Linked DNA regions of Homo sapiens. The protein of the gene in region 1 interacts with the protein of each later gene in a pairwise test. Each region holds a gene or a part of one and is shown on either strand. Other genes may lie near its edges.

Region 1 (7,087 bases):
GGCAGAGGTTGCAGTGAGCCCAGATCGTGCTATTGTACTACAGTCTGGGCAAAAAGGGCAAAACTCCATCTCAAAAAAAACAAAAACAACAAACAAATAAAACAAAACCCAAATATACCACCAGTGGTTTTCTTTCTAGTTTTCTGTTTTATAGTCTTTTTCATTCATAATGATAGTCATTTTTAAATTTTATTAAGAGGCACAGAACTTTCAGTTTTTATTTAAAAGGACTTAAATTCTTCTGTCTTATTTTGCAGATTCCAATACCTCAACCTACCAAATTGCATGTGGGTAAAAACTCCTACCACCCACCAAAGTCCCAGGAGGGTAAGGGGGAAAAACAAATACTGCCACCCTTTGGAAATCATGGGAACTTTTAAGTGACCACCTAGTCCTAAGGATGGAGAATTTGTATAATTCCAAAAATAGTGGGCCTTCTTGCACTGTTCAATAAAAAACCCACATTATCAAATATCTAAATATGATAAGTGAACAAAGTCTGAAATCTGCCATCTTTTCAAAACGTTCAGTTATAATAAATCTACACTAATTTGCTTTGTTAAAAAATCTTGGCCAGGCACTGTGGCACATGCCTGTAATTCCAAAGCTTTGGGAGGCCAAGGTGGGAAATCAGGAGTTCAAGACCAGCCTGGACAATATAGTGAGATTCTGTCACTACCAAAAAAAAAAAAAAAAAAAAAAACTTATAAGAAGCGGATTCCCAATGAAACTGGTTCCCAGGATTCAAGTTAAGATTCCTGACTCCCATTTTCCCTGATCCCATGTTCCACCATGAAAACATAATTCTGTACATATACACTTCACAAATACAGAAGGTTCTTTTAAATTTTGCCCATAAAATTTGTTTGTATCAAAAAATTATAATAAACAAAATCAAATATATATAGTCTAGGACAATTTTAAACAGCCAGTCATCTCAAGTAAATATTTCATCTTCTGAAATTAAAACTTCAAAGGGTCTAGTGAGACATGCATACATACATAAATAAAAGCATCATTCATTCATTATCTCCTTCAAAAACTTAAGAGGAAAATGATTAGGTAATATAGATGCAAAATACAAGGTGTTGTCAGAACCCCACTGTGATACTTCTACTTTTCTCTAATAGGGGAGGAGTAGATAGGCAAGAACCAAGAGGAGAAGGAAGACAGATGTTTTCTGAAGTTTGTGACGCAGAATAGGGGTTATCTAAATAAATAACATGGTGGTCAATGTTCATTTATTCTCTGTCAAATGCTGCTGCTTCTTTAAAACATTAAAAAGTGTTTTTCTCCCTTAGTCTGTCATTTCTTAATGGCAAAAGTTAAATGCCTACTCCTAACTATGTTTAGTGACTGTAAGTCAGTGAACAGAAATGTGCCATTAGAAGATTAGCACTGATGCTGCCTGAAATACGTTATATGCAGTTAGCAGGTTACATTTGTTTTTAAATTTTAATAAAATCTAAAGAAAAGCTTTAAAATACGAGAAATCTATACTCCCCAAAACTATTTGTATTTATACCCATCCTCCTTGCCAACGATTTGGAATATGGCAAAGTAGATATAGGTAAATATTTTTAATACTTCATAAATACAAGCACAGATAGATGGATGAATGTGATCACTGTAACACTGATTAGTGAGCAATATACTTTATAGAGAAGACTTTGCAATGGGATTGCTAAGTAATTTCCCAGTTGGGATAACCTGTACAGCTTACAAGAGTATTTCTATATCTACCATACAAATATCTTTATGAAGATGAAGGAAGAGAACATTCTAAAACACAAATTTGAACATACTGAGCTGAAGCTTACCATTATGGCATAAAATAAGGGTCCAAAAGAAGAGATAACTTATGTACGCTGATGAAGTGGGGTGAACACCATGCCTTTAACATCAATCTTACAGTACTGAAAAGCAAAAACAATAAAACCCCAATATTAACATAAGGCTATTAAGAGAAAAAAAAAGAGATTACATATTTCATAATTAACAAGGAAAATTACTTATATTTTTAAGACATACATATTTTTAAGACACTTTTTAATAATGAGTAACAATAAAATTCATGTACCACAACCTATCCACTCACTGCTGAAAAGTAGTTTCAACTAGGAAAGGCAAAACACACTTGCCAAGTTACAATTATTACTCCTTTTCTCAAAAATACTTAACATCTCCAGAGAGAAAAAAAATACATTTTTTAAAATCTCTTCTCTATCACTACTGTTGCTATTCTCATTTTTCCTTTGAATTATTTTAATAGCTTGCCCACTGGGCTTGATCACTATCCAGTTCACTTTACAAATCACAGATATAATCATGTCTGCTGATAAAAAATCCTCTTATTAATAAGAGAGGACACAAACAAATAGAAAAAAAATCCATGCTCATGGATAGGAAGAATCAATATTGTGAAAATGGCCATATTGCCCTAAGTACTCGTAGATTCAATGCTATTACCATCAAGCTACCATTAACTTTCTTCACAAAACTAGGAAATACTACTTTAAATTTCATGTGGAACCAAAAAAGAGCCTGTATAGCCAAGACAATCCTAAGCAAAAAGAACAAAGCTGGAGGCATCATGCTGTCTGACTTCAAACTATACAATGCTACAGTAACCAAAACAGCATGCTACTGGTACCAAAACAGATATACAGACCAACAGAACAGAGGCCTCAGAAATAACACCACACATCTACAACCATCTAATCTTTGACAAACCTGACAAAAACAAGCAATGGGGAGAGGATTCCCTATCTAATAAATGGCCCTGGGAAGACTGGCTAGCCACATGCAGAAAACAGAAATTGGACCCCTTTCTTACACCTTAACAAAAATTAACTCAAGATGGAATAAAGACTTACAACATAAAACCATAAAACCATAAACCATAAAAACCCTAGAAGAAAACCTAGGCAATACCATTCAGGACATAGGCATGGGCAAAGACTTCATGACTAAAGCACCAAAAGCAATTGCAACAAAAGCCAAAATTGACAAATGGGATCTAATTAAACTAAAGAGCTTCTGCTCAGCAAAAGAAACTATCATCAGAGTGAACAGGCAACCTACAGAATGGGCGATAATTTTTTGCAATCTATCCTTCTGACAAAGGTCTAATACCCAGAATCTACAAAGAACTTAAATTTAGAAGAAAAAAACAACCCCATCAAAAAGTGGGTGAAGGATATGAACGGACACTTCTCAAAAGAAGACATTTATGCGGCCAACATATGAAAAAAAGCTCATTATCACTGGTCATTAGAGAAATGCAAATCAAAACCACAATGAAATACCATCTCACACCAGTTAGAATGGCAGTCATTAAAAAGTCTGGAAACAGATGTTGGTGAGGCTGCAGAGAAACAGGAACACTTTTACACTGTTGGTGGTAGTGTAAATTAGTTCAACCATTGTGGAAGACGGTGTGGCAATTCCTCAAGGATCTAGAACCAGAAATACTGTTTGACCCAGCAATCCCATTACTGGGTATATACCAAAGGATTATAAATCATTCTACTATAAAGACACATACACACGTAACGTATGTTTACTGGAGCACTATTTACAATAATGAAGACTTGGAACCAACCCAAATGCCCACCAATGATAGACTGGATAAAGAAAGGGTGGCACATATACACCATGGAATACTATGCAGCCATAAAAAAGAATGAATTCATGTCCTTTGCAGTGACATTAATGATTCTGGAAACCATCATCCTCAGCAAACTAACACAGGAACAGAAAACCACACATCACATGCTTTCACTCATAAGTGGGAGCTGAACAGTGAGACCACATGGACACAGGGAGGGGAACATCACACGCTGGGGCCTGTTGGGGGGTTGGGGGAAAGGGGATGGAGAGCATTAGGACAAATACCTAACACATGCGGGGCTTAAAACCTAGATGACGGGTTGATAGGTACAGCAAACCACCATGGCACATGTATACCTATGTAACAAACCTGTACATTCACCACATGTATTCCAGAACTTAAACTAAAATTAAAAAAAAAAAAGATACATTATCTAGCCTATTTGATACAAAAAACAAAAACAAAAACAAAACGAAACCTCACTCCTTGGGTACATATGTTTCTAATATTTGGTGGAAAGATTCATTCAAAAACTCAATGAATCCAGGAGCTGGTTTTTTGAAAGATCAACAAAATTGATAGACTGCTAGCAAGACTAATAAAGAAGAAAAGAGAGAAGAATCAAATAGACGCAATAAAAAATGATAAAGGGGATATAACCACCGATCCCACAGAAATACAAACTACCATCAGAGAATACTATAAACACCTCTACGCAAATAAACTTGAAAATCTAGAAGAAATGGATAAATTCCTCGACACATACACCCTCCCAAGACTAAACCAGGAAGAAGTTGAATCTCTGAATAGACCAATAACAGGCTGTGAAATTGAGGCAATAATTAATAGCTTACCAACCAAAAAAAGTCCAGGACCAGATGGATTCACAGCCGAATTCTACCAGAGGTACAAGGAGGAGGTGGTACCATTCCTTCTGAAACTATTCCAATCAATGGAAAAAGAGGGAATCCTCCCTAACTCATTTTATGAGGCCAGCATCATCCTGATACCAAAGCCTGGCAGAGACACAACAAAAAAAGAGAATTTTAGACCAATATCCCTGATGAACATCGATGCAAAAATCCTCAATAAAATAATGGCAAATCGAATCCAGCAGCACATCAAAAAGCTTATCCACCATGATCAAGTGGGCTTCATCCATGGGATGCAAGGCTGGTTCAACATACGCAAATCAATAAACGTAATCCAGCATATGAACAGAACCCATGACAAAAACCACGATTATCTCAATAGATGCAGAAAAGGCCTTTGACGAAATTCAACAACGCTTCATGCTAAAAACTCTCAATAAATTAGGTATTGATGGGACGTATCTCAAAATAATAAGAGCTATTTATGACAAACCCACAGCCAATATCATACTGAATGGGCAAAAACTGGAAGCATTCCCTTTGAAAACTGGCACAAGACAGGGATGACCTCTCTCACTACTCCTATTCAACATAGTGTTGGAAGTTCTGGCCAGGGCAATTAGGCAGGAGAAGGAAATAAAGGGTATTCAATTAGGAAAAGAGGAAGTCAAATTGTCCCTGTTTGCAGATGACATGATTGTATATCTAGAAAACCCCATTGTCTCAGACCAAAAACTCCTTAAGCTGATAGGCAACTTCAGCAAAGTCTCAGGATACAAAATCAATGTGCAAAAATCACAAGCATTCTTATACACCAATAACAGACAAACACAGAGCCAAATCATGAGTGAATTCCCATTCACAATTGCTTCAAAGAGAATAAAATACCTAGGAATACAACTTACAAGGGATGTGAAGGACCTCTTCAAGGAGAACTACAAACCACTGCTCAAGGAAATAAAAGAGGATACAAACAAATGGAAGAACATTCCATGCTTATGAGTAGGAAGAATCAATATCGTGAAAATCGCCATATTGCTCAAGGTAATTTATAGATTCAACGCCATCCCCATCAAGCTACCAATGACTTTCTTCACAGAATTGGAAAAAACTACTTTAAAGTTCATATGGAACCAAAAAAGAGCCCACATTGCCAAGTCAATCCTAAGCCAAAAGACAAAGCTGGAGGCATCACGCTACCTGACTTCAAACTATACTACAAGGCTACATTAACCAAAACAGCATGGTACTTGTACCAAAACAGAGATATAGACCAATGGAACAGAACAGAGCCCTCAGAAATAATGCCACATATCTACAACCATCTGATCTTTGACAAACCTGACCAAAACAAGCAATGGGGAAAGGATTCCCTATTTAATAAATGGTGCTGGGAAAACTGGCTAGCCATATGTAGAAAGCTGAAACTGGATCCCTTCCTTAGCCCTTACACAAAAATTAATTCAAGATGGATTAAAGACTTAAATGTTAGACCTAAAACCATAAAAACCCTAGAAGAAAACCTAGGCAATACCATTCAGGACATAGGCGAGGGCAAGGACTTCATGTCTAAAACACCAAAAGCAATAGCAACAAAAGCCAAAATTGACAAATGGGATCTAATTAAACTAAAGAGCTTCTGCACAGCAAAAGAAACTACCATCAGAGTGAACAGGCAACCTACAGAATGGGAGAAAATGTTTGCAATCTACTCATCTGACAAAGGGCTAATATCCAGAATCTACAATGAACTCAAACAAACTTCCAAGGAAAAAACAAACAACCCCATCAATCAGTGGGCGAAGGATATGAACAGACACTTCTGAAAAGAAGACATTTATACAGCCAAAAGACACATGAAAAAATGCTCATCACTGGCCATCAGAGAAATGCAAATCAAAACCACAATGAGATACCATCTCACACCAGTTAGAATAGCGATCATTAAAAAGTCAGGAAACAACAGGTGCTGGAGAGGATGTGGAGAAATAGGAACACTTTTACATTGTTGGTGGGACTGTAAACTAGCTCAACCATTGTGGAAGTCAGTGTGGCGATTCCTCAAGGATCTAGAAGTAGAAATACCATTTGACCCAGCCATCCCATTACTGGGTATATACCCAAAGGATTATAAAACATGTTGCTATAAAGACACATGCACACGTATGTTTATTGCAGCACTATTTACAGTAGCAAAGACTTGGAACCAACCCAAATGTCCAACAATGATAGACTGGATTAAGAAAATGTGGCACATATACACCATGGAATACTATGCAGCCATAAAAAATGATGAGTTCATGTCCTTTGCAGTGACATGGATGAAGCTGGAAACCATCATTCTCAGCAAACTATCGCAAGGACAAAAAACCAAACACTGCATGTTCTCACTCATAGGTGAGAATTGAGCAATGAGAACTCATGGACACAGGAAGGGGAACTTCACACACCAGGGCCTGTTTTGGGGTGGGAGGAGGGGGGAGGGATAGCATGAGGAGATATACCTAATGTTAAATGACAAGTTAATGGGTGCAGCACACCAACATGGCACATGTATACATATGTAACAAACCTGCACGTTGTGCACATGTACCCTAAAACT
Region 2 (7,788 bases), on another chromosome or scaffold:
TCTCAGTAATTGCTAAGATAGACACTGTGGGTGTGTGTTTAAATAAGGAAATGGGTCAGTTATGAGAGTAGGGAATTTGCCAGTGCATTTTTAGGACAGAAACTCAGATCTGACAGTTGCCAGATAGTAATCAAACCCTGTTTGGGAGATTCCTCATTCTGCCCCAGCGCTTCCTTTTCATCCCTGCAGATCTTTCTTATTTCTTCCTCAGTAGGCTTCTTTCTCTCCTCTCTTACTGTTTTCCAGTGTGTCTGAGGTGAGTGCAGTCTGACTGCTTCCCGAGGGTCTTCTTCTGCCATAAAAGAAAAGATCTTTCTCAACCTTAGCTGAGGAGAAGCTAGCGCAGGTTTCTCTCAATGCAGATGTAGCTGGGCTGCAGTCCAAGGCTTAGAAAATCCTCTGGATATACCAATGAGAATGGAGGCTTAGGTTGGAGAGAACAGGAAGGTCTAGGGAATTGGGATCTGGAGCAAAGGCTCACCATAGACATGCAAAGTGGTCAGCTTATGGAGCACACGCTGTAGCTCTTGGAAGGTGGGTCTGCGGGTGGCGAGGGGGATATCCCAAAGTCGGGGATCCCCCCTTTGCAGGGGTGCTCCCTTGCCTCCAAAGAACAAAGACCGGCCAGAGCGGGGAGCACGCAACAGTATTGTACCAGCCTCCTCCAGCGCCTTAGCCCAGCTTGGCCCTGCCAGCAGGTCACGAACATCCTAGAGAAGAGAGTAACTCAGTCCTGCATACCTTCACTTGCTATTTATAAATCTCCAACTAAAAAAAATGGCCCACAGAAGTGCAAGGGGTGGAAAGTAGAGGATAACACGGAGAAAGAATAGAGGACTAAGGCTCCTGGGGAATCCCTCATCTACCTTTGTCTACCTATAATGAAAATTGGAAGGATATGAGTCAAAAACCTCCCTACTTAACAGTGAGTTGAACAGAGATGCAAAAAAAGTATGGATCAGTACCACCAGATCTAAAAGGCTTAACTCACCTTATATAGTGTGGCTTCATTGTAGCGCCTCAGGTTGGCTCCAGCAGAGTGTGATGGCCCACCTCGGGCATCCCGAAGCCCCTGGGCTGTGCCCCGCTTGGCCCGAACCGTATAGCGGTGAAAAGTTTTGTGTGTCACCACTTCTCTTCTGTAGACAGCACAGACTCAGTACTGGAGACCAGCTGGTGCTCCCTGGCTAACAGGATCCACTCCATCCTTACCCCCATGCAGCACCCTCTCACCCTTGAAATATAGCACCAGCAAAGTGCCCAGCTGCAGCCATGAGCACCACGCAGTCTCTGGGACCTCTACTTTGCAGGTTCTGTAGCAGCAGTTCTGCCTCTTCTGGGGGATCCTTGATGACAGAGAAGCATCAGAAACATATCTGTTGCATTCACTGAGAGCAAGAAACTAAGGGCCAATTTTCACAAACATTATCTCATTTAATATTACCACCCTGAGGCTTGTTTCCATTTGACAAACAAGGAAATTTGAGGCTTGGCGAGGCAGTCAAGATGAAGTGGTAGAATCACAATTCAAACCTAAATTGGTTTGTTTCCAAACTTAATTCCATTACACTTAACCCTTCCACAATTCAGGCCAGTTTCAATTCAAGACTATGTTGTCAAGCGTGATACCCACAACCAACAGGAAGGAAGAGAAGCAGGGAGAAATGCACTAGGCTAAGGGAAATCTAGGCTGGGTGTACAAAAGGCTGGGGTTAGCCATGCAACCTGTACTGTCACTTGCCTGATGAGGGCCTAGGACACAGCGGTAGGCATAAAGAAACTGGCCCTGGGCATTCTGGAAAAGAACTCGATGAGGGTAAAAGCCTGGGGGTCGGCTCAACTTCTCAAATGTAGCCCTCTCCCGATCCAGTGTCTGCAAGTCCTCCTCACTGGCTGAGTCTGAGTCTTCTGATCCCGAGATGCTGGAAAGATCTCCTGAAGACAGACAATATGAGATACACAAGTTTGGTACCCCATTTTTGTTCTTTCCTCAAACTCTAAACTAGTGCTTTCTTATACCTCCATGTCCTACTCCTACATAGGTCCCCCTACCACTCATCACCTGTGGAGCTCTGCTTTTCAAAGTCCAGGGCAGACAGGAGAGGCTTGTCCTTGAGACGTTGCTTTAGGTTAAACCGATGCCAGTCAAGCTTATAATGTTCCCTCTAGTACAAAGACAAAGAGTGAGATAAAGGTGGAAATATGCCCCAGCCTGGCCTTGTACTGGCCAAGACCAGTTATAGTATTCTAGGAAGTACAACCAGGTAACACCAACTGCCTCAGTCAAAGCATGGACCTTTATTAAGACAAATCAAATGTCTACCTCTCCCCACCCACCATTACACTTTTGCTTCTAACATCTAGCTCTGCACCTGACCTATTACCTGTTCTTGGTGGTTCTGGAAGGTCTGGTCACAAGTTGAACAAAATAACTTCTCTGAAATATCCATAGGACCCTGGAGTAGCTTTCTTTCTGGGCTTTCTCTCTCCCCTGAGCCTAAATAAGGGAAGAGGAATTGGACATAGAAAGGGAGCCCAAATCCACAGTGACAAGAATTATATTCAGAGTGTGATATACAAAGCAGAGGAGGATACAAAAGAGATGGCATGATACTGCCTTCAAGGAATTTACACTCTAATAGTCATGAAATAAACAGTACAGCAATCACTTAATGCAATAAACATGCTTCTGAAAACATGTACGTAAAATGAATGTAAATAAAATAAAATTGGCCAGGTGCAGCGGCTCACGCTTGTAATCCCAGCACTTTGGGAGGCCAAGGCAGACGGATCATGAAGTCAGGAGATCAAGACCATCCTGGCTAACACGGTGAAACCCCGTCTCTACTAAAAATACAAAAAATTAACCGGGTGTGGTGGCGGATGCCTGTAGTCCCAGCTACTTGGGAGGCTGAGGCAGGAGAACGGCATGAACCGGGGAGGCGGAGCTTGCAGTGAGCCGAGATCACACCACTGCACTCCAGCCTGGGCAACAGAACGAGACTCTGTCTCAAAAAAGATGAAGAAAAATAAAATAAATAAAACGAATGTAAATAAAAACTGGCCCTGGGCATTCTGGAAAAGAATCCGATGAGGGTAAAAGCCTTGGGGTCGGTTAAACTTCTCCAACGTAGCCCTCTCCCGAGATCCAGCGTCTGCAAGTCCTCCCCACTGGCTGAGTTTGAGTCTTGTCTAATTTAAATTAGCCAAACAGATTGTTTAGGTGAATCCTAAAGAAAATAATTTCTGTTCAGTTTAAAATTATTTTTCACTGCACAAAAACTACTTCCCAAATGCTTTTTAAAGTTTACATTTCCAATTAGTGTACAGTTTGTCTAAGGAGAGGTGCAAGAAAAGATGTAGCCAAACTAAAGTTACACAAAACAGGACCGACACGGTGGCTCATGCCTGTAATCTCAGCACTTTGGGAGGCTGACCCAGGCGGATCACTTGAGGCCAGGAGTTTGAGACCAGCCTGGCCAACATGGTGAAACCCCGTCTCTACTAAAAATACAATAATTAGCCGGGCATGGTGGTGCGGGCCTGTAGTCCCAGCTACTCGGGAGGCTGAGGCAGGAGAATCACTTGAACCCGGGAGACGGAGATTGCAGTGGGTGGAGATCGTGCCACTGCACTTTAGCCTGGGCGACAGAGCGAGACTCTCAAAAAATAAAGCTATACGAAACAAATAATAAATTGTTTCATATTCAGCAAAAAGGAATAATTTGAGTGGGGCCTGGTTAAATGTGGAATACATCTGAGAATTTTATCTCTACAAAGTTTAAAGTGTTTTTGAAGGGAATGGTGTTAACGTGAGGAGATACATGCAATGGCAAAAAGACTTGTTTGAAAACAAGGGCTGTGCTGGACATTACCCAGAGATTAAGTGAATTTAATCAAGCAGAAAGATAAATCAATTGGCCTCCTAAGCTCGGGAATACCAATAAGAATGTGTTCCCTGAACGGGCAATACGCTGTAAGGAGCCCTGTCACGTTTCACACGAAACCTTCCAGGATACCTGAACAGGAAGTACGCGGAGCCCGGGCCAGAGCCTCCCCAGGCGCGTGGCTCACCAGGCTCAGGCCCTGAAAGACCGGAGCATCCGCGCTGAGGTCAAACAGGGAGATCGACGCAGGAGCCGGGGCTGCATCTGGAGCCGGCGACATGGCTGAGCAGAAATTATTTAGCAGCAGCTCCTGGAGTAGAAAGCGTGTAAGAAACAGGGCTCCTGCAAACGAGATCCTACTGCTGCGTCTCCTGCCTGCCTGACTTGGTTTCTCCTGCACCGCAAGACTTCTCGTCTCTCATCCTGCTACCAACTGTGAGATGAATACCTTGGCCCCCGTCCACTTTCTCAAACCCCCAGTCTCAGCCCACAAAAGAATGAAATAGGCATTCGGCTCCCAAATCGAGTCCAACAGAGTTAAAAATCACTGAGCTTGCCTAGCCGAACTTTCTTCGTTACCCATGCGACCAGCAACAACTGGCCCGCGTAAACTCGCCCACGCCCTTAGAAGACGCACCAAACGTCCCGGGAGCTGAGCGGCTCGCAAGTCCTCAGGTCGATTGCCGGATTTCTGCAACACAACAATCCCCGTCACTACGGAGCAGCGAAGAGGACAACCGGCGGCGTCCGCACCTGAGCCCCGCCCCACGTAGAGCACACTATTGGGCCGCTGACTGTCCAAGACCCGCCTCGAGACTTTAGTCCCGTCCCTGAAGCCGAGAATTGGCCGTTGTGTCTCCGCCCCCCGTGCTTATTGGCCAGCCTGGCTGCGGGTGACAGTGAGTGGCAGACACCCGGCCTAGCGCCGCGGGTCGCGCCGAGCCGAGCCGAGCCGAGCGGAGCCGGCGGAGCCTCTGGAATCACCCGGGTCGCTGTTCCTGAGGTAAGACGTGAGACCGGTTATTGGAATCCCAGGCCCCGTGTCTGGCCTTGCCCAGGGGTGCCTGCGGAGCCCTAAGTGAGCTCGCGGCGGGTAACGGAGGAAGGGGCGCCGCCGGCGGGGCGGGGGCGCGCAGCCGGAATGTTTTGATTGCTGGCGCGCGCAGACGGGGGCGCGCGCGGGCGCCGGGGCCGCGCGCGAGGTTGTCCGCTGTTGGGAGCTGCCAGCCCTTGGCCTGGGGCCGGGCGACCCTGGGGCGAGGTGGACTCCGGTCCACGGTCGCCGCGGCTGGGTGTGGGGAGGCAAGCCAACCCACCCGGGCTATCAGCTGTAAGGCTGACTCGATCCCTGCAACATCCGCAGGAACCCCTGAGCCCAGGCCCAGCCGGCCGGGGCTCCACGGGCCCTGGTCCACACTGACCCTGTGAGTGGTGACTTCCCTGAGGGGCAGGGCTCTCACTAGCCCAGGGAATCCCACCGGGGCCAGGCTGGGCCAAGATCCACGGCCCCCAGGGGCTGCACGGACAGGTGAGTACCACCTCGACCATGCCTGGCTTACAGGACCTAGGGAACCCACAAATTCACCTAGGATCGGGGGTCTACACTGACCCAGTCAAGGTTTCCCATCCAGAAGGTTTGCTCACCGGCTGGATCTTTGGTGCTAGGGAAGTAAGAGAAGGGGTTGACCAGAAAGGTCCTCTTCAGGAAAGACTCTTGAGGTTTTGTGGACCCTGAGAAGTATGTCATTTCTGAGGCTAAGGTAGGGCAATGGAGAAATAGTCCAGAGGCGCCCCTGGCCTCAGGTCTGTACCCACTCATTCTCCATGGGGTCCCTAAGTTACTTCTTGAGACCCTGGAGTTGGAAGAGTGGCCCGGTTTAGCACAGCCAGAGGAAGTGCTCGTAGTCCTGGGCTGGAAGGGTGCTTCTTCCCCACTGCAGCCTTCCTGCCCCATGCTTGGCCTCCTCTTGGTGGGGTGTGGATGGCTGGGAGGGTTGGGTTCCTTTTTATCCCCACTGCCCACTCTCTGGGGCCTGACATCTTCTCCTCCAGCAGCTGCAGAGCATCGAGGGCTGGAGAGGAGCACATACTGTCCATGGAGCTGGTAGGGCCATGTGCTTTTCTCAAACATTTGTTTGTGAAGTGCTTCCAAACTGTTAGTCTCTTGGGAGACCAGGGTTCCCAGGATGGGCGGGGGAGGGACTCTTCTGTCCGTTAAATAGAAGATGAAACAGCCCCCAACAAAGGGACAGATTCTGGCTTTGGGCCAGGAAAGCAGCAGTAGACACCCAGACTGGCCAGAGTTAAGGCTCCCCCAGCCCTGAGCTTACTGCCTTTCTTGTGTCACTACTCCTCTGCCTCTGAGCCAAGGAGGCTGGTAGTGGACAAAGCCCAAGGGTACTTTCTCCTTTTGGCAGTAGGCAGGGCAGCCCATGGGCAGCAGCTGGAACTGAATCAGGGTCTCTTCTTCCTCCTTATTGGCAGGTGGTCAAGGTGGACAGGGGGCGGTGGTGATGGCGCAGTTTGACACTGAATACCAGCGCCTAGAGGCCTCCTATAGTGATTCACCCCCAGGGGAGGAGGACCTGTTGGTGCACGTCGCCGAGGGGAGCAAGTGTGAGTTCTTGGATATGACAGCCATAGGGAGAGTTGATGGAAGAACATGGAGAGAGCAAGGGGCTTGTGTTCTCCCAGGGCTCTGACATCTCTGTTCCTATCCCACAGCACCTTGGCACCATATTGAAAACCTTGACCTCTTCTTCTCTCGAATATCCTTTGTGTTTCTGAGTTGGAGCTCTGGGACCTTTAATGTCTCTCTAAGCCGGGGCTCTGGTGGGAGGTGGGGGTAGGTTTGACTCTAATACCTGGAAACGGGAATGGAGCTCATCCTGAGGCTGAAAGAGGCTGGTGAAATCATCGTTAAGTAATGATAGCCCACATTTACCAAGATCTGTGTGCCTGTGTCCACTTTGTGGTGTTAATTTGTAGAAGCCTTTCTAAGGGTGAGCCTCCTTTTTTTTTTGTTTGAGATGGAGTCTGTCTCTGTTGCTGCTAGAGTCCAGGGGCGATCTCAACACACTGCAACCTCCACCTCCTGGGTTCAAGAGATTCTCCTGCCTCAGTCTCCCACGTAGCTGGGATTACAGGCACCTGCCACGATGCCCAGCTATTTTTTGTATTTTTCATAGAGACAGGGTTTCACCATGTGGCAAGGCTGGTCTCGAACTCCTGACCTCAAGTGATCCACCTGCCTTGCCCTCCCAAAGTGTTAGGATTACAGGCGTGAGCCACCACACCCAGCCGAGCCTCCTTTTTGATGGGATGTAAATAATCGTAATAAGTAACGTCTTTTGACTCATTCTGTGTCAGCTCTGTGTTAAATGCTTTACATGCATTATCTTAGACCTAATACTCCTATGAGACAAGTGTTATTTATTCCTAATGTACCACCATGGACAGACAAAAGTTTAGACAGGTTAAGTAACTTGGTAAAGTCACACAGCTAGAAAGTCACAGAGCCAGGACTTAAGCTTGAGTGTGTTGACACCAAAGTCTGTGCTCTTACCTGCTTTCTTTACTGACTACTTTTTCTTAACAATTACACGTTTATAATCTGCACCAGAAGAATGGCTTCACATGTATGCTCATCGGGGAGATCTTTGAGCTCATGTAAGTATAAGAAGGGACAGATGATGTGGTGAAAGAATACATCTTAGTCTTTCCTCTCCTTGCACTCACACTTGGCCCAACCTGCCAGTACAACTCAGTCCTAGGCTAAAACTCCGTAAACCTTTGTAGTTCAGGGACTGGGTGTGGCACCAAAACTTACAGCTTCACCTTTCTTTTTTTTTGAGATGGAGTGAGTCTCACTCTGTCGCCCAGGCAGGAGTGCAGTGGTCTT

What was found. Proteins that work in one complex are often made in the same cells at the same time.
Region 2: the proteins of SUPT20H (region 1) and ATG9A interact in binary tests that used the Homo sapiens proteins (3 or more experiments, as listed by UniProt).

What each region holds. Positions count from the first base shown.
Region 1 is NC_000013.11:37,049,668-37,056,754, forward strand, and holds part of SUPT20H (transcription factor SPT20 homolog), read right to left. Parts: intron 1,917-7,087; 5' UTR 1,824-1,916; coding exon 1,821-1,823; intron 1-1,820. UniProt on the Homo sapiens protein: Required for MAP kinase p38 (MAPK11, MAPK12, MAPK13 and/or MAPK14) activation during gastrulation.
Region 2 is NC_000002.12:219,226,637-219,234,424, reverse strand, and holds the start of ATG9A (autophagy-related protein 9A), read left to right. Parts: upstream 1-4,788; 5' UTR 4,789-4,890; intron 4,891-5,939; 5' UTR 5,940-5,991; intron 5,992-6,371; 5' UTR 6,372-6,400; coding exon 6,401-6,503; intron 6,504-6,611; coding exon 6,612-6,655; intron 6,656-7,491; coding exon 7,492-7,556; intron 7,557-7,788. Other genes in the region: tRNA endonuclease ANKZF1, read right to left, coding at 137-292, 482-710, 992-1,139, 1,234-1,346, 1,742-1,935, 2,063-2,165, 2,385-2,497, 4,020-4,167. UniProt on the Homo sapiens protein: Phospholipid scramblase involved in autophagy by mediating autophagosomal membrane expansion. Cycles between the preautophagosomal structure/phagophore assembly site (PAS) and the cytoplasmic vesicle pool and supplies membrane for the growing autophagosome.